3 separate regions of the Homo sapiens genome follow, and regions 2 and 3 are each linked to region 1. Evidence: fine-mapped expression QTL. A gene starts in region 1. Each other region holds a variant in brackets. All regions are shown on one strand. Distances are from middle to middle.

The links.
Region 2: its variant is fine-mapped to the expression of HES1 in whole blood (TOPMed, PIP above 0.99).
Region 3: its variant is fine-mapped to the expression of HES1 in whole blood (TOPMed, PIP above 0.99).

The regions. Positions count from the first base shown.
Region 1 is chr3:194,131,680-194,139,860 of GRCh38, reverse strand. HES1 (hes family bHLH transcription factor 1) reads right to left here and starts at 3,713. Exons shown (of 4, transcript NM_005524.4): 1 at 3,373-3,713; 2 at 3,149-3,244; 3 at 2,813-2,900; 4 at 1,129-2,178. The coding sequence starts at 3,480. The coding sequence ends at 1,628. RefSeq lists enhancers at 1,600-1,789, 3,587-3,746, 2,556-3,755 and silencers at 1,820-2,019, 4,746-5,285, 5,356-5,635.
Region 2 is chr3:194,164,332-194,172,512 of GRCh38, reverse strand. No RefSeq gene overlaps it. Among named protein-coding and RNA genes, the nearest start is that of HES1, 32 kb to the right of the region's middle. The variant T/G (reference allele first, on the strand shown) is at 4,431.
Region 3 is chr3:194,104,721-194,112,901 of GRCh38, reverse strand. It overlaps LOC102724877, which reads right to left. Exons shown (of 6, transcript XR_002959666.2): 5 at 3,921-4,047. Among named protein-coding and RNA genes, the nearest start is that of HES1, 27 kb to the left of the region's middle. The variant G/T (reference allele first, on the strand shown) is at 3,476.

The sequences.
Region 1 (8,181 bases):
CCTGTGGGAAAGGCCAGAGCAGGGCGGGGGAGAGGTAAAGCTTTTGAAACAAGACAGAAAATCGTTGGCTTTATCTTTGTTAGGAAAGCTTCAAAGATTGATCTCTCCCGCCTCATCCTTCTCCTCCCAGAAGCCGGTCTAAGAAAAGGGGGGTTAGAGGAGGCTGGCGGGAGGGGCCGGGGGGGAGGAGGACTGGCCGGCGGTGGGGGAGGAGGGCGCGCCCGCCAGACCCACAGCGCGGCTGATGTGTCTGGTCTCGCAGGGCTCGTGGTTTTCATTTCCCCAACACCTGGATGCAGTCAAACACCTGGCCAAATCTGACAAAATCTGACAAGCCTTTGTGATGGGATTTGGAAGAAATTCCCTGCAGATCCTGGCACAGTTTAAAGCTGTCCGCTTTGAGTTAGGACTTGTTAAGGAGGGTTATGTGAGCTGAAACCCGAGACAACCCTTTTGCTTCTATCTGGAGCCCACATCTTGCCTGGAAATGGGGCATGACCAAGCGAAGGGGTCGCTTGCTGTTTGTATTAAAAGGGGAAGATGGCCTGTGTGCCTGCCAGCACAGCCCCCACATGCTTTCTCTATTAGAGCCAAGCACAGAAACTTATCAAAAACACATGTCTGGTGTTAATCATCTGGGCTCGGCCTCCACTTGGGAGTCTAACTAACTGTCCCTTGGCAGAAGGAATCTGTTGACCTTTTCAGCTTGCTTTAAGAGGGTGCGGAGAGGAAACTTTTGGGTGCTAGGGAACGTCTTATTTGAACCAAAGGATTGGCTAATTAATGAAGACCCCAAGTCTTGAAGGAGGCGCAGCAGTTGGAAGTGTTTTTGCTTTGGATGCTGGTGAGCTACCCTGAGAGGAGAGCTGCAGGAACCACCCTTAACGTGCAATGGGCAATAGGATTGGATCCATTAGCTTCGTGAATTTAGTCCTGTTCAATCTTCCTCAGGAGGAGCTAGAAGAACAAGGGCTGCAGACTTACCCGACTGCAACTTAAAAACATTTTTTTTGGAAATCCTTTAAGAGACTGACCACAAGTTTATCAGGGAAGCCTTACCAGATGGCTGCTTGTAAAGTAAATGGAATTTAGTCTTTTTAGTTCATGGAGGATTGGTGAAAAGTTTGATGGATTTTTACAAATGTTCTTTTAATAACAAAAGAGTCAATTCCTGAATTACCAATTACATGTAATTCAAATTCCACCAAAAGCCTTTTTACATATTCTGGAAGAATCAGTTCGAAGACATAAAAGCCTTTACTTTTTTCTTTTATTATATTTTCTCAAATAAACTTCCCCAAAGGAAGATATTTTAAGAGCATTTTCAAACATCTTTGGCATCACATAAAAAAGAAATCTCGTGTAAAAAACGAAATGTCATCTGAGCTTTTATAATACAAAGGCGCAATCCAATATGAACATATAAAATATATACAAATATAGTGCATGGTCAGTCACTTAATACAGCTCTCTCTACAAAAAGTAACTTCTTAGAAATTAAAAAAACACAAAGTAACCACTTAATCAAAAAAGTCCTCTTCTCTCCCAGTATTCAAGTTCCTGTTTAGAGTCCGGAGGGAAGAGAGGTGGGTTGGGGAGTTTAGGAGGAGGGGTGGCCTGAGCCCCCTCAGTTCCGCCACGGCCTCCACATGGAGTCCGCCGTAAGCGAGGGGCCGCTGGAAGGTGACACTGCGTTGGGGCCCACGGAGGTGCCGCTGTTGCTGGTGTAGACGGGGATGACAGGGCCGCTGTGCGCGAAGGCCCCGTTGGGAATGAGGAAAGCAAACTGGCCATCGGGAGCCGGTACCACCTGGAAGCCTCCAAACACCTTAGCCGCCTCTCCAGCCTGGCTGCCCAGCTTGCAGGGGGCGCCGCCGGGAGGGGGCGCCGCGCCCCCGGGGATGGGCACGAGTGGCGGCGGCGGCGCGAACGGCGCGTGCTGGGGGCCGCCGGGTCCCGGTGGGGGCGGTGGCGGCGCCTGCAAGGCGGGGTGCGGCTGCCCGGGGTAGGTCATGGCATTGATCTGGGTCATGCAGTTGGCCAGGTGGCCGAGCAGCCGAGTGCGCACCTCGGTATTAACGCCCTCGCACGTGGACAGGAAGCGGGTCACCTCGTTCATGCACTCGCTGAAGCCGGCTCGGTACTTCCCCAGCACACTTGGGTCTGTGCTCAGCGCAGCTGCGGGCCAGAAAGAGACAGACGGGTCACCGAACGGCCCTGGCCCCGTGGCCACTGCCTCCGCCCTGGGAGGTCCCTGTGGCGCGCCTCCCTGACCATGCGCCCGTGAAACTGCCTCCGGCAGGGAGGGTGAGATGGGTTTAGAAAAAACCAGCCACCTCTCCACACTAGCGTTGCTGCCAAAAGCCGAGCCACTCCTTCCCGATTCCCTGTAGCTGCATTTAAACCTATCTCAGCCCCAGATCTGTCACCCCCACCCCCGCGCGCGATGTGACCTTGGACAATGCCTCCCAATCCATCATCCAAGCCTCATTTCCCCTTCTGCAACGGGAAGGAGTGCTAAACCAGTGACCCCCAGGCTCCACGCAGTTCCAAACCGCCACAGTCCTAAGTCCTTTCGCCCCTACCCGGCGCCCGCCACCCTCGCGGCTGCAACCTCTTTCCCTCCCTTTCCGGAACAGTAACAACTTGGAGTTGTGGCTATAAATAAGCCCCAGACCGTGGGAACGCAAGAGTGAGCCAAGGCAGTAAAATGTAGCTGAATGCCTCTCACAACCACGGGCGGAAGTCTGGAAGAAATCACCGCGAGGCGAGCGGGACGCCCGCACAGGGGGACGCGGCGAGCCGCCCTCACCCGTCATCTGCGCCCGCTGCAGGTTCCGGAGGTGCTTCACTGTCATTTCCAGAATGTCCGCCTTCTCCAGCTTGGAATGCCGCGAGCTCTGCATAGAGTAGGCAAGAAAGGAAAGTGAGCCCCGTGTCAGCTGCTTCAGAGTGCTGGGGGTCCCTCCTCCCGGCCACGGAGCGCAAGCATTATCTCTGGACCCCAGCGAATAAGGCCGGGCCCTCCCGCCTGGGAGAACGCAGTACCAGCGAGTGCCAGACCCCGCAGGGCGGGGGGTTTCACTCTTAGTAGCTGAGAAAGTGTTTGTTTTTTAATTAAAAGAGCGAGCAGCATTTCCCCACTTACATCTTTCTTCAGAGCATCCAAAATCAGTGTTTTCAGCTGGCTCAGACTTTCATTTATTCTTGCTCTTCGTCTTTTCTCCATAATAGGCTTTGATGACTGCAAATAAAAAAAAGAGTTCTGTGTTCCCATGGAATCTGCCATCCCGGGGTTTCAAGACAGAAAGAAGCCCCCCAACCCCTACTTAATTTTGAGGGGCTGCAAAGAGATACAGGTACCGCCCTTACCTTTCTGTGCTCAGATGCTGTCTTTGGTTTATCCGGTGTCGTGTTGACACTGGCTGGGGTAGCAGCCACCGGGGACGAGGAATTTTTCTCCATTATATCAGCTGGCATTTTCCTTTTTTTTTTTTTTTTATCTCTAGAGAATTTTATTTTTGGAGTTCTTCACGAAAAAGAATTTTTTGTTTGTGTCTCTTTTACTTGAGACTTTCACAAAACTACTGAGCAAGTGCTGAGGGTTTATTATATTTTGTGGCTACTTGGTGATCAGTAGCGCTGTTCCAGGACCAAGGAGAGAGGTAGACGGGGGATTCCGCTGTTATCAGCACCAGCTCCGGATCCTGTGTGATCCCTAGGCCCTGGCGGCCTCTATATATATCTGGGACTGCACGCGAACGGCTCGTGTGAAACTTCCCAAACTTTCTTTCCCACAGTAACTTTCAGCCAATGGGAGGAGGAGACACGCGGCACCGCTCGTGGACCGCGCCCCCCCATTGGCCGCCAGGCACAAGGTCTGGCGGCCAATGGCGCGCGCCTGAGCCCAGGGCACCGGAGGCTACAACGTCAATCAAAAGGATTTTAACCCTTTGCTACTCTCCCTCTGGGCTTTGGTTTAGAGATTTTTTTTTTCTTTCCGCTTTGGTCTTGATCTTGTCTATTTCTTTTGGAGCCAGGGTCTTTGCTCTTTATGCCCTCTCTCATATGTAACAGAGCTGCTTTGACTGTAGTAAGTTCATTTGAAACATATTTTTTTTAAAGGTATAAACAATAAAGAAAAAAACAGCAGTGGTTAAAAGGGGGCGGGGGGAGGGGGGGACGGGTGTAAGAATGTGAGTTACCGACACATCTAAAGTTCCCGCTCAGACTTTACATTCAGGAGGGTGAAAGTAGATGGTAAAGGAAAAGGGCCAAAAAAATTTTCCTGTTTCCATGCAGAAAAAGGAAAAATTGCCTTCTACCTCACAAATGCAGGTTTTTCGGAGCAAGGTAGTTCTTGAATCCCACCCCCACCCCGTCTTTCAGAAATTCCTCGTTTGGATTTGGGGCCTTAGACCCCGGGCTTCCCCAGGAAACAATCAGAATAATTTCCAACTGGGTGGAAGGAAACGGTATTTCAAATGAAAAAATGAACAAGGGGGGCTCCGAGGGCAATGACTCAGGGACTCGCGCCCTCCTTCACCACCCTTTCCCTTTTCATCCGTAGGCTTTAGGTTCTGCGGCGCGTTGAGGTGGCGGGCAAGGAAGCAGCCTCTCCCTCCTCGCCCCGCGGGCGGCCTCGGCCCCCGGCGCCCGCGGGCCCTTTAAGAGCTACACCAGCCGAGCTGCAGTTTGACATCAGCCGGCCGGCGTGGGCGCGCCTGGAGCCGGAGCACGTGCCAGGATGTTTTATTGCCGCCGCGGCTGCGGCCGGGCCGGGAGGATGTGTGTGTGCGTGCGTGTGTGAGTGAGTGTGTGTGCGCGCGCCCCGGGGGCAGGGAGGCGGGGGGCGGCGACGGGCGGCGGAGAGCGGGGGCCGGTTCCTGGTCCCCGGGAGAAGCCAAGAAGGTAAATAGCAGCTGCTGTGCTCGAGCCTGGGAAAACCCCGCCCCCTGCGCCTGGCCCGGGCTCATTGGCGCGCGCTGCGTGTGGGGGGTGTGTGTGTGTGTGTGTCCGGGGCCCCCTCCTCCGGCCCCGCCGGGCCAGGAATCCGAGGGGGCGGCGGGCTGGGAGCCGAGCCCCGGCGCTTACCCTCTCTCCCCACCCCCGCCTCCCCAGGCCAAGGTCAGCTCTTCCCGGCGGGGAGCGCACACCCGGGGTGGAGAGTGGGGAATTCTTCCAACCCCCGCCTCCCCACCCTCACTTTCGGGCTTGGGGTTTTCACTCGGCCGAAAGCCGCATTCGCAACAGCCCGGGGGCGAGGTGGGGGCCTCCAAGTTTGCTCCTCGCCCCCGCCCTCTCCCCGCGGGGCCCTGGGCGCCCGCCGCGGTCACGGGATGCCTGACCGCACTTAGGAAGCGGCCGGGTCAGCCTCCTGCCTCCGCTCGGCGACTGCGGTTAAAGCGGCTTCGCGCCGCCCGCCCCTTCCCCGGGTCCCGGGCGGCCGGGCCGCTCCCCCTCACTACGCCCGGGAGGCCGCCGGCGGGCGCCCGGGAGGAGGCGGGCGGCGCGGGCGGCTGCGTGCTGCCTGCTGGCCGGGCCGCGCGCCGGGAGGAGTCGCCGCCGCCGCCGCCGGGTGCCACGTGGCGGGCGCCGGGCCGGGAGCGCCAGGGCTCTGGCGGCGGCCTCCCTGGGGGATTTGCCGAGCCGGGCGGGCGGCGCGCACTGCCTGGGCCGGCCGGCCGCCTCCTCCGCCTCCCTCCCGCCTGCCCGGGTCGCCGGCCCCCGTGCCCCCACCCCCCCTCCGCCCTTCCCGCCGCCTGGGAGCTCGGCTCGCGGCTCCGGGCAGCCCGGGAGCCCAGCGTCTTGTTTGATGTGGCCTCCCGCCCCCTCAGCCCTTCCCGCGTCCCGGAGGCCTGGCGCACGGTTCTCAGACACTTCATTCCTTCCGGCCTCCCAGCTCCCCACTGAGATAACGTTGTCAATGATTTCGCCAGATCTCGTCCCGGATGAGATTCAGTGGTTCCTGACTCTGGGTGACCTTGGGCAAGCCCCCCTCTCTCTTTCATTGTGGAACACACGCGCAGTGTCAGACACTGTGTTAAACCCTGGGATTTCCACGGTGAGAGATACAGTGGCGGCCTGCTAGAAGTTGACAGTAAACTGCGGGGGCAGACAGACGCTGATTTTCTGATTGATGACTGGACATTCCTTTATTTTTCCTTTCTTTTCTGAGTTAGGTGGTGGCTTGAGAGATCAGGAGGACAGAAACAAAATATGAAACCATACTTGTATGGATAACAGTATTGCTGGTCTACCTGGGTTTACAGCAGTGAGTAAGACCGTTATTGCTCTCTGGAAGCTAACAGTCTAGAGATACATATAAACGTGTACAGCTGACATCTACGGATGGCCCAGTAAATTCCTCTGGGAAGTCGTAGGTTCAAGAGAGACGTATGTCTGGATAGAGGTAAAATGCTATGGAGTTTCAGGAGAATTAAGTTACTTTTAAGTTGGGGTACCTTGGAAAACTTCCTGGAGGGATTGGCCTGTGTACCTTGAAAAATAGGTAGGATTGGGGCATTGGGAATGTGCTTAGTCGTGGGCTGGAGAGGATGCAGGTACCCATGGTATTAAAGGCCAAGATCCTGGAACTTGAAGACTTTATTCAGGGAACATGGTCTGGAGCCTAGGGAATGTGAGGGACTGGAAGAGGCAGCTTGAGGCCATGTCACAAGCTCCTTAAACATCTTGCTGAAGGACTTTGGACCTTATCTTTAGACAGTGGAGAGCCATGAAACATTCTTGAGCAAAGAAGAGGCATCAGGGTTTCCCTTTAGAAAGATGGCTCTGGCAAAAGTGGGAGAGTGGATTGCAGGGCTTGGAGGCAGAAAGGGCAGTTAGGCAGTTCAAGCCAGTGAAGAAGGTTCCTAGGAGGCAGGTGCAGACTGACTCCCAGAGGCATCTGTCTACATCCAGCTCCTCTGGACATTGACCGCACGCTCTTGGGAACTGAGTTCAACTCAAACCTGCCTACCCTTTAATGCAGTGTTCCCAACCCCCAACCAGGAACTCAGGAACTCAGATTTAATTCCTGAGTCTAACTAAGGAATCATGGCTCTGACCGTATTAACCTAAGCCTCATTTCCACCTTCCAGGATAGTCCTCCAGTCTGCAACCAAACATTTCCCTCATCGAAGGCTTTGGTTTACTCACTGTTGCCCCTAAGGCTACTCTGAGATTTTTTTTAAAAAATGTTTTCTTACACTGCAGAGTGAGCTGTGCCCTGTCATGTTCTGAAGAAATGATGAACAATGCCTCCTTTGTTGACCTGCAACCTGGGCCAAAGGGGAAGGAATTTTCTTTCTTATTTTAAACAGATGGAAAAGTGGTGATGACAGAAAATTGTCTGTTGCTTTTGGAAAACGTAGGGTTTTCCTGTGTGGTGAAAATCCTCTTGGTGAAAGGTGATGAGCCTATGAAGTTACCCTCCTTTCTGCCATGGCCCCAATAAGCTTTGCAAGCTTCTTAAAATGCTTCTACTGAGCGTCTGACTTTTTAAAAACTTCCCAAATACACTGACCCAGATTCTTCTGAGGAACTAAACCCTTCCCGGGGAAGCATGTTAACCCTTTCCAGGTTCCCCCCAAATCTTTCAGAACCAGTGCCTGCTCTGCTAGGCTCTGCCAGGCTCTGCCATGACATTGACTGCTGTCTGCTGGTCGGCCCTCATTAACTACTGGGTTATGCCACTCCCTGCCCATTCTAAGAGACTTTTTCATCTGATTCTGTTCCCCACTCTTATTTGGTGCCCTGAAGGTGCATGGGGAATGGAATATGGTCAAGTTAGGGTCTCACTGAAGGGGCTAAAGCAGCCTCGTGGGTCAAATAGTTAATCAGCAACTCGTTTATTGCCACTTTGGGAGTGCTTGGACTGGTGGAATGGGCAAGTAACTTTCACACACACGTTTTTAGATAGGGGGACAGAGGCTCAAGTAACAAAAAAAATTATGAATTTGTGTCTGGACCAAAAATAAATAAATAATAAATAAAAATAAATTCCAGGAACTCTCTGGCTTTCCACTCTAACCATTCAAGAAGAGTTTCTTGCAGATGGGCTCACAGATGACTTTTCAGTTTCCTTATGCTAGGCAGTGAAAATAGGACCAACGTTGTCCTCTCCCCACCCCTTCTCAAATGGGACAGTAAGCTCCTAAACTCAGGAAGAAGCATCTGCAT
Region 2 (8,181 bases), 33 kb before region 1:
GTGCCCCTTAGATGAATTCTTTCCTCCGGGGAGGCGAGAATCAAGTTTGCTGTAAGCCTGTTGGATTTGCCACTGCTGACAGGGTTGGTACAGTTGTTCAGAAGGGCCCTTTGGCCCTGTTATGGGCTGGATGTTTGTGCCCCTCCCAAATTTGTATGTTGACACTTAATTGCCACTGTGATATGATGGCATTAGGAGGTGGGGTCTTTGGAAGGGATTTGTGCTGTTATAAAAGGCTGAAGAGATCAGAGTTCTCTTTTTCCACTATTTCTTGGGAATTTTTCTGATGGACGGGGCAGACACAGTGAGAAGGTACCATCTATGAACTAGAAAGCAGGCCCTTCCCAGACACTGAATCTGATGGTGCCTTGATCTTGGACTTCCCAGCCTCAAGAATTGTGAGAAATCAGTTTGTGTTATTGACATGTCACCTGCTCTGGGGCATTTGGTTATAGCAGCCCAAATAGACTTAGGCCCTGATGTGCAGGCGTGCTGACCAGTAATCCGAGCAGTCAGTAGGGCTGCTGTGCATAAGAAGATGATTCTTCAAAGCGCTTCCAAAGACTGTCCTCCCTCAGTGTTTGTAGGTGTATATTTGACTCAACTCATAACACTGTTTGGCTTTAGAAGGTGGATAATGGTTCTTCAAACCCAAGAAAATTATCATAAGGGAGAGAAGTGGGGAGTCAACAAAGGGCTCAGTGAGCATGAACTGAGATGTTCATTGTATTGGCCTCCATCTCCCTTTTCCCCTTCCTACCCAACAAAGCTTCAGCTCAAAAACACTCATTCAATGCTTCACAACGAGGACACGTTCTGTGAAATGCGTGCTTAGGCAATTCCATTGTTGTGTGAACGTCACAGAGTGTACTTACACAAACCTAGATGGTACAACTTACCACACTTGTAGGCTATGTGATCTAGCCTATTGCTCCTAGGCTACAAATCTGTATAGTATGTTACCGTATTGAGTACTGTAGGCTGTTGTAACACAGTGGTAAGTATTTGTGTATCTAAACATATTTAAACACAAAAATAGTACAGTAAAAGTGCAGTCTAAAGGATTAAGATGGGCCTGTATAGGGCAGCTCTATCATAATCCTGTGAGACCACTGTCACTTACATGGCACAAGACTGTATCTCCTGGGTCAAACTGCATTGAAATGCATTTTCCTATACCATGCTACGAGGGTGAGGACACATCTGTAGGTAGGTAGGTTTCAGGGTGCTGGGGAACAGGTGAAAAGGCTCAACCTCTCTTTAATAATCTAGAGAGGGGCTTTTGAACTTTCAGACACAGAAGTCTTTTGGAAAAATGAAGTTTAATGTGGAACTCTATAAATATATATATATATAAGTGATATTTAGCTGGCATAACTTTATTTTGTATGTTCAAATTTATAACATTTATTAACATTTCAACAGGAGGTTGTTTGTTTTGACTAACGACATTTTGAAATTGTAGAAGTGGGAGATAGTTGCTATCTTATCAGCCTCTGCATCTGATAAACATCTGCATTTGTTTTGTTGCTTCCTTTCCAGGTTGCAAATAGAAAGTTATCTGAGGGTAGCATTGCAGTCCAGGGCGCTTCTCAAGTATATGGAGAGAATAAACTTTTTGCTCTGAAGTCAGCCCTAAAATGAGTTATAGATTTCTAGGGTATTGGTTTCTCATGTCTTAATAATGCAATATAATTCAATTAGCATGCATATTATTTCTTGTTTCCTTTTAAAAAACATTTCTAACTGTATTATAAAAATATAGGCTTACTGTCATGTTTGTAGAATTTCTGAATCACTTGTGAGGGGTGTCTTTGGCCAGCGGGCATGAAGAACTGTAGGGGTCTAAGGTAGCCCTGCTGGGGGATATGGGTGAGATATGTCCTCTTCCACACAGAGGCAGTGAAAGGGCCCATGGTGCCCCACAGCGGATCATCTGTAAGCCCCATTTTAAAGCCAGCTTCTCAAGGTTCATGGTGCCCCACGGTGGATGACAAGTAAGCCCCATTTTAAAGCCAGCTTCTCAAGGTTCATGGTGCCCCATGGTGGATGACAAGTAAGCCCCATTTTAAAGCCAGCTTGTCAACATTCACTGGGTCTCTCAGTCGCCTCCCTCTGTGGCTTCTTATTTCCTTGCTGGAATCTTTTTTTTTTTTAAATATGCTTGCCTCCCCTCAGCAGGCTCCAGACCGCACCTGGAAGGTCACTGGAGCCAGCCTGTAAGAGGAAGTATCACCCTTCCCTGAGACCACCATGAAGGTGGGAGTGGTGGGCTTCAGAAGACTCCCAGGAGAAGGGGATCCTAGATACAGAAAGAGGGTTCTCCCAGTGTCCTCCCCAAACCCCCATCCCTCCGCCTTGCCAACCCTGGAGTTTCTGGGCTTTATTTTTAGTAATAAAGCCAGTATTTCCTTAATACTGCAGTCTGCCAAGTTGTACATTAGGCACCGTGGGGGCACAGAGACAAATAGGCTCCGGGCAGCCCCCAGCCTTTCACAGTCAACAGAAATTTGAGCTCCTGGGCCCTTTCAGCCAAGAGAGAAGCTGGGTTCACGGTGCTTCTCAAATGTTATTTTCAAAATGGACTTATCTCAAAGCCGATTGAGTACTAATTTATGTTTTCGATCCCAGTAAGATCTGTTGAAATGCACCCCTTCTTCCAGGCCACCCCCACCTCTGCAGTGTGAGGGAGCACGCGTCAGGGTGTCTGCTGATGACGGATGACCCAGCTTGCTCTTTGTATTGCTTGGCCGGCAGATTTTGTTCCCAGATTGTTTTGGAGTGGCCAGAAGCGGTCAGCATGTGGGATCTCCAAAATCTTGGAGACGTCAGGTCACATACTGGTAACATCATTCAACCGAAGACATTTTTAAAAAAACATAATTCTCTGATATTTGTTAGTTGAGGCTGAAGCCTTTACTTCTCAGGCAGTGAGGAATAGAATTCCAGGGAAAGTAATTTCGCATTGGAGAAAAGTAAAGAATAGAGCAATGTCTTCCCTAAGCCCAGCTACGATTTCTCCTTTCCCAAGGGTCTCTAACGGTGGAGGAGGGCTGGGAGCCCTGTTCTCTGTGTCCTTGTCTTGTAAGTGAGAGACTGGGCTATAGCGAGCAATTATCTATCTCTGAACCCACAGAAAGAGAATGGGTCTATGAGCAATTTTCAATATTTCAAAAAGCTTCATGGCAATCCTTCATTTGCCTGGATATGGGTGGCACAGTCTGATGAAGATGCCTCCTTGCTTTGCTTTTGGCTGTGTGGTAACCCTGGGGACTACCTCATGCAAACAAGAAGGTCTGCCTGGCCAAATAGAACTGTGATTCATTGCCTGGGTTTTGACAGCAGACAGATCTGGGGTCAAGCCTGTGCTCATCTGCTTCCTAGCAGAGTGGCTTTGATGGAACTACTTGATCTCTGTGAACTTCGATGCTTTCACCTGTAAAGTAAGGACAAGAATCTGAACCTCAGGGTGCTGTTGGGGTAGGTCTACGGTGAGCCTTCGATAAAAGGTAGCTGCTGTTGGGACTAGTTGTGATTAATGAAAAATGAGAAATGGAATTATTATTTAATAAAAGTAACCTATTGGTGGGCAAAGATCTTTTAAAACTTGTAGCCCAGAAGGGTTCTAGGCAGTGAAGGTTGGGACCCTCTACACCAGGCGACCCTAAATTTTTCCTTTGCAGTGGGGCTGTGGAGAGGACGTACGTGCATGATTGAAGTTTAACAGGGAAACTTTCATTTCATTTCCTTTTGCTGATTATGCATATCCTGTGGTGTCCTAAAACTCAAGCCTAGGACCATAGTTCAGGCCACATGCCCTGTGGTGACCTCCGTCTAAGCCACCTCTGTGTGCCCTAGATTGAAAACTGTTGATTGAAAAGGTCAGAACAATACCTTCTGTCATGATGGCTGCAGATCACATTCAATCGGGACAGCATTCTAGTGATTCAAAAGACACACACACACTCACACTCACACACACACACACACACACACACACACACACACACACACCCCAAACAGGGACATCAGTGACCTGCGGAGAATGGGGGAGATTTGAGGATTTACCTGGGAATGAAGGTTTCAGTCATGCTACCACCCAGTGGTGGGTGGAAGTAACCTGGTCAGTTAAGCCTGCTCCAGGATTTTGTTTGATATTCAATAATTATCTTACTGCTGCTCTTTGTTCTGGAAGCTCTTTCTTGGCAATGTGTTGAGACACATGTTTTTTCTTCTTTAAAAAAAACACACACAATACAGTGAGACTAAAACTGCTCTAAAAATTGTTTATTAAAACAAAAAAAAAATGTGTGTGTTTGTTCTGCTGACAACAGTGCCATGAAATATAAAACTTGGTGCCCAGGATTTCTTCATGCTAATATATTACATAACTTGAAGGCTTCCCTATGTATTGAACCCCTGTAGAAATT[T/G]CCGGCTGAACGTCAACCTCTTCCCCTTCCTCCCAACACACAGCTCTACCTCCCACTCACTTTGCAGTGGACTTTCTTTAGAAGGTCTCTTTTAGATTTTTCTTTTTCATCACACAGAGACGCTGCCATGAATGAAGAGTCTTTCTTCTTACAATTGAAGACTTCAGCTTCAAAAAAATGAGATAAATTCATTTTCTCCTCTCTAAGGTACTTGAAATGTAAGAGTTCATTGAAAGGGGAGGGGGAAACTCATTGTTGAAATTCATTAAGTTTTAGTCTTGACTAAAATGAAAGAAATGGAGATTAACAATTCAAAAATGGAGCTTGTTCATTAAAATTAACTACAGTTACACAGCTTGTCATGCAGTTCACGGGGAATCATTTCTCTCCTGCTTAATTATGATGATGAAAACTCAGCTTTTACTAGGATAAAATGATGTCATCCTTATCAGAAAAAAAAATTGTTTCCCAAGTCTGGCTGCAGCAGTATTTTTCTGGGATGTTTAAAAAAAAAAAGCTTCTAAAGTGATTTGTTAAGTAAAGTTGTTCTCCAGAGCTAGCTCTGTATTGATGTATGTTTGAATACGGGGGGGAAATGTCTCACATAATGAATCCAAGCTTAATAAACCAAATACCAAATGCATTTAAATTTATTACAATTAGGACTTTCGGAGTTGTAAACACCTTAACAGACACACAACTTCAAAATCATTCTGATATTACCGAACTTATATTCAAAATGCCCTGTGCTTTCGTCACATGATTTATTAGATGTGGTGATTGGCATGTTCTAGAATTTCCCCCTCCCCAAAGAAAACACATTTTTTCTTACATGGTTATTGCAGCAGTTATGTATTATAGCTACGAGTGTTATGAAGCACAGCATTACGTTTTAAGAAGCTCCTTCCCTTCCCCATGAGAGAAAGGGACTCTACAGGAAGCAGAGGAGTGGGGCAGCGTGGAGCTACAGGCTCTCATCTCTGGGATGGTTCCAGCTGTAATAAGTGAGCCCAAGACTCTAACGTAACAGGAAAACTCCACTGGCTCCAGTGATTAGGAGGGACCCCGCCCACAAGGACGCTGTTGGCCCCTGTTGCCATCTGCCTTTGGACGTGTTAGGAGGTAAAGAAAGGTCCTTTTTATGTTAAAATCTCACTACCTCTGAAACTGCCCTACAGAAATCCCATCATTCCCCTTCTCTCTCTTTTCTTGGCAACACTAAAAGTCCTTTGTAAACATCCTCCCTGAAAAGCCTCTGTAGATCTGTCCGATAAACTTCCAAAGCGGGGGGCGGGCGAGCGGGCGGGTAGTTTAAGCTCCTGCCTGGGAACAGATTGAATGTAGACAGTTTAAAAGATTATTACATTTGGAGAAGTAGCTGAAATCACCAAGCTTGAAAAGGTGTGAAGGAGCAGCAGAAAGGATACAGTCCTGGTCTGGCTATGCAGGGCTTTTTTTATTTTCTTTCCCTAGACCCCTAAAGCTGTGAGGAATCTTGTTGCTAATCAGAAGGAAGAAACCCAGGCTCTTGGTCCTAAATGCACACAATTATGAAAGCAAAGGCAATGAAACATTAAAAGATGTTCCCAAAGTATGTCAGAGCTAACATACACACCACTCCAACCAAACTGAATTAGCCCAACCAGTCAGAAGTGCTTTTTTTTTTTCTTTTTTTTTTTAAAAAAGAATCTGTTGGCAAATGTGTCTCATTTATCAAATCCTTTCATTTCCCCTTCTCCCCAGCCCTCCTTCACAGGTCAAAGGAAATGCACTGGTCTATTGAAAGATATTGATTTCCTCCCACTGTGAGATTCCTAAGGAACCTCATTGAAAGGAGGGATAAAGATCCTGGTGGGTTTCAGGGACAGCTCTCTTACTTCCTCTTCTCCTACCCTGGCTTCTTCCCATTGGAATGCAGCTAGTTTCTTGACTTTTGGTGAATACTAGGAGTTTCCCAGGAGACATTGTCAGAGACTAGATGGAGGTTACTCCAAGGTACAGTGGATTAAATGCTGCACTGGATGGAGGTGGGACCAGAAGACCCCTAGGACTCCTCTAGCTCTAAGGTCCTGTGGACCAGTCTTTCAATTCTACCCCAAAGGGCCACTTACAGTTCAGAAGCAACTGATACAAGCCTCAGGAAATTAGACTTAGATAGATATTGACCCCCTCCTCTCACCCAGATGATCAAATGGCAGGTGTGGACACTTGTAAGGACAGCAGTGCCTTGTAAGTTAGTCGGGCCGGATGTTGAGTGACGATTGTGGGCAATGCTGGGCTAGATGATGTTGAAACAAAACAAACATGCAGACAAAAACCCTTCTCTTTCTCTTTGAGTAGCGTCTCTTTAGCGAGACCATGACTCTGAGCTCCTAGATGACATACTACATCTATTTTTTAATATTAAATTTTATTGAGGTGTGATTGGCATGAAATAAACTGCACATAAAGTATGCAAGTGATAAGTTTGGCCTATGTGTACAACTGTAAAACCCTCACCACAATCAAAACAGTGGATATATCCCTTCCCTCAAAAGTTTCCTCACATCCCTTTAGGATCCTTTCTGCCTCTCTGGCACCCTATCTTCCCTCCCCCAGTCTCTAGGCAACAGCTAATTTGCCTTATGTCATTGTAGATTAGTTTGCATTTTGGAGAATTGTAAAAGAACGGAGTCATAGAGGACATATTCTTCTTTTTCTGGCCTTTTTTACTGAGCATAATTATTTTGAGATCCATCCATGTTGTTGCATTTATCTGTAGTTTATTTCATTGTATTCCTACATAGTAATCCATCGGATGGATAATATCACACTTTGTTTATCCATTCACTTATTGATAGACATTTGCATTGTTCCAGTTTTTGACTGTTACAAATAAAGCTGCCTTGAATATTTTATGTACAAGTCTTTTGTATCGACATATGCTTTCAGTTCTCTTGGGTAAATACCTATGAATGAAACGGCTGGATCACATGTTAGGCATATGTTTAACTTCTTCAGAAATCATTTCTTGAAATAGTTTGTACCATTTTATATTCCAACCGGCGGTATGTGAGAATTCTAGTTACTTCACATCTTTGCCAATGCTTGGCATGGTTAGTCTTTTCAGTTTTAAACAGTCTGGTGTGTGTGTGTGGTGGGTTCGTATCTCATTATGATTTCAATTGCATTTTCCAAATGACCAATGGTATACATCTTTTCATGTGCTTATTTGCCATCATATTATTTTGGGATGAAGGGTCTGTTGAAATCTTTTGTCCATTTTTTAATTGGTTTGCTTTTTTTATTATTGAGTTTGCAAGTTCTTCATATAATCCGGATACAATTCCCTTATCAGATTTGTGATTTGCTAATATTTTCTCCATTTATTTTCTTTTTCTCCAAAGTTTTTTATTCTCAAGGCAGTGTCTTTTGAAGAGAAGGTCTTAATTTTTTTTAAGGGATGGGGTTTGCTATGTTGCCCAGGCTGGAGTGCAGTGGCTATTCACAGGAACAATCTCGCTACTGATCAGCATGAACGTTTTGATCTCTCCATTTCCAATCTGGGCAGATTCACCTCTCCTAGGGCGACCTGGTGGTCCCCCTCTCCCAGAAGTTCACTATATTGATGCTGAACTTAATGCAGACGCCCTTTACAAGGCTGTATTTTAAACCACACCAGTGTTCAGTTCCTTAGCAAGACGATTCAGAGACAAATACCAGCACTATTAATTATACCTTTATTTAGAAGTGCAGTATCTTGAAAGACAAG
Region 3 (8,181 bases), 27 kb after region 1:
ATCTACCCATCTTCCTAGAGACAGGTTTCCAGTTCTGGCTTCTCCTCCGGTGCCCTTAATCAAACCCACAGTTTGGCAGACGAAGCACAGCCCCTCCTTCTCCATCCCCATGGAGATCCAGGAATTTGTAGGAGTCGCCTCATTTCTGGTTATTCAATAACCGGCAGGGCATCGAATGTCAGGGCTAAGAAAACAAACCTGCCTACCTGTTGGACTGAATGACCTCATAGCCTGAGCTGTTCTCATGGTGTTGGCTTGCACTGTCTGTCAGCGACTCTTTCATCACAAGCCCGACTGACATCATACTGTTCTAAACACCTAACCTGATCATTGTCACTGTGCTTACAACACAGCCAAAGACAGCAGTTAAGGCTCTGATTAAGCCTGGGGGCAGTCTTGCATGAGGAAGTAAGGGGTCTTTTTTTTTTTTTTTTTTCCCAGCCTTAAGAATGGAGGATGTGAATGGGGAAGGAATGAAGGGGCTTATTGTGTTTTAATTCCAAATTTGTCCTTAACCTCCCTACCTGGATTTCCAGCCCAAGGCTTCACTCAGTACTCGGTGGAGAAGAGCAAACCATCTGCCCACATCTGACCTGGCTGACCAGGGCTTTCCTGCAGGGGAGGGAAGATTCTAGCACCATTCCACTTGTGGATGTCTCTGATTGGAAAATGATCTTCTCTGAGCTTTAGTGAATAACCTGAGGGCCTCCATTAGATTGTATTTGTGGGCCACTTTTCATCACTGGATTCCCAGGCAATGACTGTGAAAGATTCCCACAAAACAATAGAATGGATGCAAAATAATCCTATTATTTATTTATTTATTCATTTTTCAGACAGAGTTTTGCTCTTGTTGCCCAGGCTGGAGTGCAGTGGTGTGATCTCAGCTCACTGCAACCTCCGCCTTGTGGGTCCAAGCAATTCTCCTGCCTCAGCCTCCCAAGTAGCTGGGATTACAGGCGCCGGCCACCAAGCCTGCCAAATTTTTGTATTTTAAGTAGAGACAGGGTTTCACCATGTTGGCAAGGCTGGTCTTGAACTCCTGACTTCAGGTGATCCACCTGCCTCAGCCTCCCAAAGTGCTGGGATTACAGGCGTGAGCCACCGCGCCAGGCCTGGAAAATGATCTTGAAAGCAAGTCATAGCTTCCTCAAGTTAGAGTTGGAAGGATTAGGGAGATACTAAAAGGGAAGTTAATTATTCTATGTGATATAAATTCATTCATTTGCTCACTCATTCATTCACCTATTCATTCATGAAATCAATATTTTCTGAATGCCTGCCGTAGGCCATGTACTGTGTGATGCACTCAGGAAACAAAGACAAAGTCACAGGTCAGTGACATTCATGTGACTTGTATCCAGGAAGAAGCCTGTCCAGATGGCCGAGAGGGCCATGAGGAAGAAGAAAGCTCAAGGAGTGGCTGGGGAAGCAGGGAGGAGAGTTTTGGCCTAAGACTAGAATATTGATTTTCAAAGCATAGGCCCTCGGCACTGGACATCACAGTGATCGGGGAAGTATCTCAGTCAGCTTTGGCTGCCTTAATAAAATACCTTCACAGCAGGAATTGATCGTCTCCCAATTCTGGAGGCTGAATGCCCAAGAGCAAGGTGCTAGCAGGGTCCGTGTCTGTTTGGTGAGGGCGCTTCCTGGCTTGCAGATAGCTGTCTTCTGGCTGTGTCTTGTTATGGCCTTTCCTGGGTACTTGAGAGTAGAGAGAGCTCTCTGGCATGTCTTCTTATGAGGGCACTAATCCCATCCATCATGGGGCTCCCTTCCTCACGACCTCATCTAAACATAATGACCTCCCAAAGGCCCCATCTTCAAATGCCATCACATTAGGGGTGAGGGCTTCAATATATGAATTTTGGGGTGAAACAATTCAGTCCATAGCAGGGAGTTGGTTAAAAGGCAGATTCCAAACTTCCACCCTAAACCTACTGAATCCGTGTTTCTGGAACAGGTCCTGGAAATCTCCGTGTTGATTGTTAGGTATGCTAATGTTGGAGAATGTCCTCTTTAGGATGATTTAGGCTGTTACATAGAAAAGGATGTTTCCAGGGAGAGCTGGAGCTGGTGAATGCACACATGAACGAGGAACGTTGGCCTTGGGGCGAGGCCCAGCGTTCCGTATATTTGTGAATTTATTTATAACTGAGGCTTTGGCTGACGTAGAGCTGAGCAAAGGATAGGCTCGGATGTAGTTTTGCAAAATGTCAAGATAGAGCCATAATCCTACCACTGCAATTTGTCTCAAGAATTTAAGGACTCTCTCTTTTCCCTTCCCTTCCCTTCCGTACCCTTCCCTCCCCTTCCCTTCCCTCCCCTTCCCTTCCCTTCCGTTCCCTTCCCTTCCCTTCCCTTCCCTTCCCCTTCCCTTCCCTTCCTTCCTTGCTTTCTTGCTTTCTGATTTTACCTGCTTTTTCTAAGGAAGTCAGCTTGTATAAGGAGATTTAAAGACAGGCATGCAATTCTGAGGGATCACTGGGGTGAATTATTTGTTACCTGTTGTTGCTCATTTACCTGATCGGGGAGATTAACATTCTCCTTTGAGGTTTCTTTTCCTTTTAGGAACTGCTGTGGCTCTTGCCAAAGTCTCCAGGTAACCTTCTGCTGGGGAGAGAAAACCTCCACCAGTCTCCAACTATACTTGGCTCTCAATAAGAAAGCAAGAGGGCCAGGCACAGTGGCTCACACCTAGCTCTTTGGGAGGCCGAGGTAGGAGGATTGCTTGAAGCTAGGAGTTTGAGACCAATCTGAGCAACAAAATGAGATCTCTGTCTCTCTCAATAAATAAATAAATAAATAAATAAATAAATAAATAAATAAATATAAATTAACTAGTCGTGGTGGTACACACCTGTAGTTGCAGCTATTCCAGAGGTTGTGATGAGAGGATCACTTAAGTCCAGGATGTCGAGGCTGCAGTGAGCCATAATCCTACCACTGCACTCCAGCCTGGGCTGTTTTGCTCAGTGACTAATTACAGTTGGAGGAAATCAATCCTGAAAATTGGGGTGCCTTTGCCATCCACTTATCGCTTCAACATAAAATTTTTGAGTGCCTTCCATGGCATGGTGTGAGTTGCTGTGGTTAGTTAGGTGAATAAGACAGACACAGCCCCTGTCTTCATGACATTTATAATCTACAGGTGAAAAGAAACAAGTAAACGATGGATTGCAATGAAGCGTGGTGAGAGTTATGTTAATTCTCCTGTGGTTCCTTCTTCATGCCTTCAGAGACTGAACCTAGCTCAGGGCTGGATGGCTCATTGGTACTCAAAATATCCTTGTCCTGCATTCCTTTTTTGTTTGTTTGCAAACATTTGCTGAACCCCTATGAAATGTCATGTTGAATAGATATGTCCTGGGCTCTGCTTATAACCTTAGAGGCAGATTTTTTAAATTGAACAACATGCAAAACCTTGTTGCAGAGAGCTCAGAGTCAAGTGAGGAAGTCAGACAAATAAACAAAT[G/T]GCATCAGGGCTATGCTAATGACTCAGATAATACAGCAGTGGTCTGTACCAGGCCATAAGGGAATGTGGGAGTGGAGAAAGGGGTACAGGGGGGATGATTTCTGCTGGAGAAAGGAGCAAGGGCCAAGTGGCCCAGCAGGGATCCCTGAAGGTAGAGAGTGCAGGCTGGACTTGAAGCATATTAAGAGGGTTTGAATTCTTTCAGCACTTCCCAGCCAATAGGTTAAATGATAACTAATTCAATCATTCATTGAATTGTTCAGTAGCTATATATTGAGTACCTATGATTTCCTTAGTGAGCCAGCTATACAAATCATTGGATTAACCACTCAACCCAGCAACTAGCTAGCTGGCCCCCCTGACAGGTGACAAGCTATGTAATCAAGCATTTGGGGAGTAAATACAAGAAGTGAAAAAGTCTGTCTATTGCCCCCAGAGAGGCTACCTGTGGACTGCAATGGCCAAAAGTGTCCAGTCGCTTCCAAAGCTTCTCATTTAGAAAAAGGCAGGTTCTGCGTACTTCTCTTAATTTTTTAACAGAATGACAGCTCCGTTGTCTTCCAGGCTGGTATCTAAAGTATGAAGAGATATATATATATCATATATATGATATATAAGATATATGATATATATAATTATAGTTTATTTTATTTTCAATTCTAAATAATGTATGCTTACTGGAAAAAAATAGACAAATACAGATAAGGTGAAAGAAGATAACTACTCTCATTATTTGCCCTTTTTCTAACTTTTCTTTATGATTTTACATGATTATGATCACTGTATGTACAATATATACATTGTATATAACTTATTACATGCTTTTGTCATATAACATTACAGCAACATAAATTCCTCATAAGTTTCATTTCAAATGACCGCATAATTTTTCATCATTTATGTACCATGATTTTCCTAATGTATTTAACAATCTAAACTTTTAACATTTTATTTTTCTTAGGATAAATTTACAGAATTGGAATTTCTAGTTAAGGAGAAGGGCATAATTAAGACTCTCAATAAATATTGTAAAATTACTTTCCAAAGAGTCACAAGAGTTTTTATTCTCATGGTTATGGTCGTGTACAAGGTTAATTTTAAATTGTCTGATATTTCTTTCCTGCCCCGAACATGATTGAGACAATGAATTAAGCCTTTTCCTTATATCTGATTGGGTCAGCAGAAAGCAAGAGGTTTGAATGGTATTAATCCAGATCTCTCACACTGAATAACAAATACCTTGCCCTTAGTTTTTATTACACACTATTACAAAAGCTGGCCATCTTGATGTCTTCTGCTAAGCCATCCTTGAGGACCCCATTCACTATGTTACTCAACATCCCTTCTATCAGGCCATAGTCTTCTTTCTCTTTCATGTTAGCCATATTTCCACTTTTTGTCAGTGATATTTGGCTATCAAGAAGCTCATAGTTCACACTGGTGCTTGCTGGATTGTCTAAAGCCATCTCTCCTTCCCTTTAGGGGTGACTGAGAATAGGCTCAAGACCATTGGCCAAAGGCACTTCAGAGCATCAGCTGGATTGATGGTGTATTAGTCTGTTCTCACACTGCTATGAAGAGATGTCTGAGACTGGGTCATTTATAAAGAAAAGAGGGGCCGGGCATGGTGGCTCATGCCTGTAATCCCAGCACTTTGGGAGGTCAAGTCGGGTCGATCACCTGAGGTCAGGAGTTCGAGACCAGCCTGGCCAACATGGCGAAACCCTGTCTCTACTAAAAATACAAAAATTAGCCGGGCATGGTGGTGGGCACCTGGAATCCCAGCTACTCGGGAGGCTGAGGCAGGAGAATCACTTGAACCTTGGAGGCGGAGGTTGCAGTGAGCTGAGATTTTGCCACTGCACTGCAGCCTGGGCGACAGAGCGAGACTCCGTCTCAAAAAAAAAAAAAAAAAAAAAAAAAAATTAAAAATAGAAATAAAGAAAAGAGGTTTAATTTATTCACAGTTCTGCATGGCTGAGAGACCTCAGGAAACTCAAAATCATGGTGGAAGGCATCTTTCCACAGGGCGGCAGGAGGGAGAATGAGTGCCAGGTGAAGGGGGAAGCCCCTTATAAAATCATAAGCTCTCATGAGGACTCAGTCACTGTCATGAGAACAGCATGGTGGAAACTGCCCCCATGACTCAATTACCTCCCACCAGGTCCTCCCATGACATGTGGGGATTATGGAAACTACAATTCAAGATGAGATTTTGGTGGGGACACAGCCAAACCATATCAGATGGCAAGTAAGCTTCCAAAATGTCAGGGCTCTCTTCTAACCACTGTATTGGGAGAGGGGGTGGGATCTCATACTTCCTCCCTGAGCTAGGCTTTGGGATCGGCATGTTCTGCCATGCAGACTGTGAGTCCACTTTTTCAAGCTACTACAAGGGAAAGATTATGGGCCTGTTTCTAGAAAACCAGTGGAGTAGAAGCAGCAGGAGAATAGTGACCATCCTGTTTGGTAGTGGTGGTGGGTGGCAGAGAGGGGCAATTCCCCGAGCAGGCGGCTTATCACAGAAGTCAAGAGAGGCTGGAAAGCAGGTGTCTGCTCTGCTCTGAGGAGCCCAAAGGAGCAAAAGGCAGTGACTGTCTCCTGGTGCCCCTTACTCCGTGAACACCTACGGGTCACCCATTAGTTATTCCTTCTCCCCAAAGGGAGAGAGAGGGGAAAGGCTCACTCCAACCCTCCTACTTCATATTCTGGGGAGAGCAAGTCTCCCCTGTATAGAAATGTGAAGAAGAGGAAATGAAGATTATCCTCCAAGGATACTTAGCTGCAGTAGCCACTTAACCAGTCCCTTAAAAGGGGACATAATTGTCCTTTTTTTCCCTGCAACAGACTGAATTGTGCCCCTCCCTAAATTCATATGTTGAAACCCGAACCCTGAATGTGACAGTATTTAGAGATGAGGCCTTTGGGAGGTAATTAGGTTTAGATGAATTCCTAAGGGTGGTGCCTTCATGATGGGATTAGCACCTTTATAAGAAGAAAGAAGAGAAATTAGACATCTTGCCCACACACACACTCTCTCTCTCTGCCATGTGAGGCCATAACTAGAAGTCAAGTCGGCTGTCTACAAGCCAGGGAGAAAGCCCTTACCAGAAGCCCACCATGCTGGCACCCTGATCTTGGCCTTCCAGCCTCCAGAACTGTGAGAAAATCCATTTCTGTTGTTTAAGCCACCTAGTCTATGGTGTTTTGGAATGGCAGCTCTAGCAAGCTAATACACCTTAGCAAAAAAAATGACATTTCTGATTTTTCACTTTTTTATCTTGACCTTTGCTATTATAGATGTACTTACTTTTTCATTGTAAGCAACCTGAATGTTTATATCATCTGTAGGTAAATAATCATAAACTTGGAGTTCTAAGGCGGACATGCGTAAGATACAGTGAGCAAATCAAGATGCTTTATGGGCATGACTTTAAAAGCCAGGATCAGTGAGAACTGGAGGGATCAGGTACGGCTTTCTACGGGTGGCAGGGCTGGAGTTGGGTTTGAGTGGGTGTAAGATATGGAGAAGGGCAAGGGAAAGTGAGTCGTGAGATCAAAGACAATGCTGGAGTTGGGAATAATCCATGGCTAGAGATGAACAACTGTCCTTCGGCCCTTTACAGTTTGTAAAGTCCTTTAACATCCATTACATCACAAAATCCTCATGCCGACTCTACAAAGTGAACATAATTATCATCTCCATTTTACCCTTGAGGAACTAGACTCAGAGAGATCCGATGGTGAATCTGAGACTCACACCTGACTTTTTTGGCTACAAATTTTATCGTTACTCCCACTCCCTATTGTATGCTGTCTGAGTTGGGTAAGGAAACCAGTTTGACCAAAGCGGAGGGAAGCAGTTGCTCTGGAGAGAAGTGGAAAACTGCGGTGTTGAGCTGAGGCCAAACCAGACCCACAAGGTCCCTGAGAGCCGGGTGGTGCAGATTTTATGCAGGGGAAACCACTGAAGGCTTTTGAGCAAGGGTGTGACATAATACAAGTAGAGAGATCCACCGTGCTGAGCGCTAGTGTGCAGAGAGGATTGGGAAGTCCAAAGAGGGAAGATGGTAGCAGAGATGCCAGTGACGGAGCTTCTGGAAGGAGTCTGCATATCCAGATTAGATCGTTAGTATCCAGGATATGTTGGCTTCTTTTTTGGGATTCATCACTGTGCCATTGGAATTAGAACTGGAATTGGACATAACTGAAATATTCCATTCCTTTCATTCACCATCTTTATTAATGGGCCAGTATTGCAGAGATTTGGTCCACGTTATTTTCAGCATTTTTGCTACACCTGCATCTCAGGAGGCTTCTCTGGCCCCGCCTATAAACAAAATTATGATTAACACAATGAACTAACATGTCTTAGAGCTGGAGCTAACATCAATTGACTTTTATTATATTTACTAAATATTTACTGAGTACTCACCATGTGCCCAGCACTGTGCAAAGTTCCTCCGTTGGGAAAACAGAAGAGAATCGGCACAGAGCAGCTAGTTAAGCTGCTCATGGGAAGCGGACAGGAGAGGGGGCTGGGACTGAGGACTGTGGGGACAGGACACTGGTAGGAGGTTAGACAGGGACACAAAGCATGCACGAGAAGGAAACCAAGACTAGCTCCTTTTGGATGTCAGAAGGATTAGATGTGGATCCACCAGCAGCAGTTGAGTGTTCCCCTCTGAGGTTTGCTTTGTCTTGTA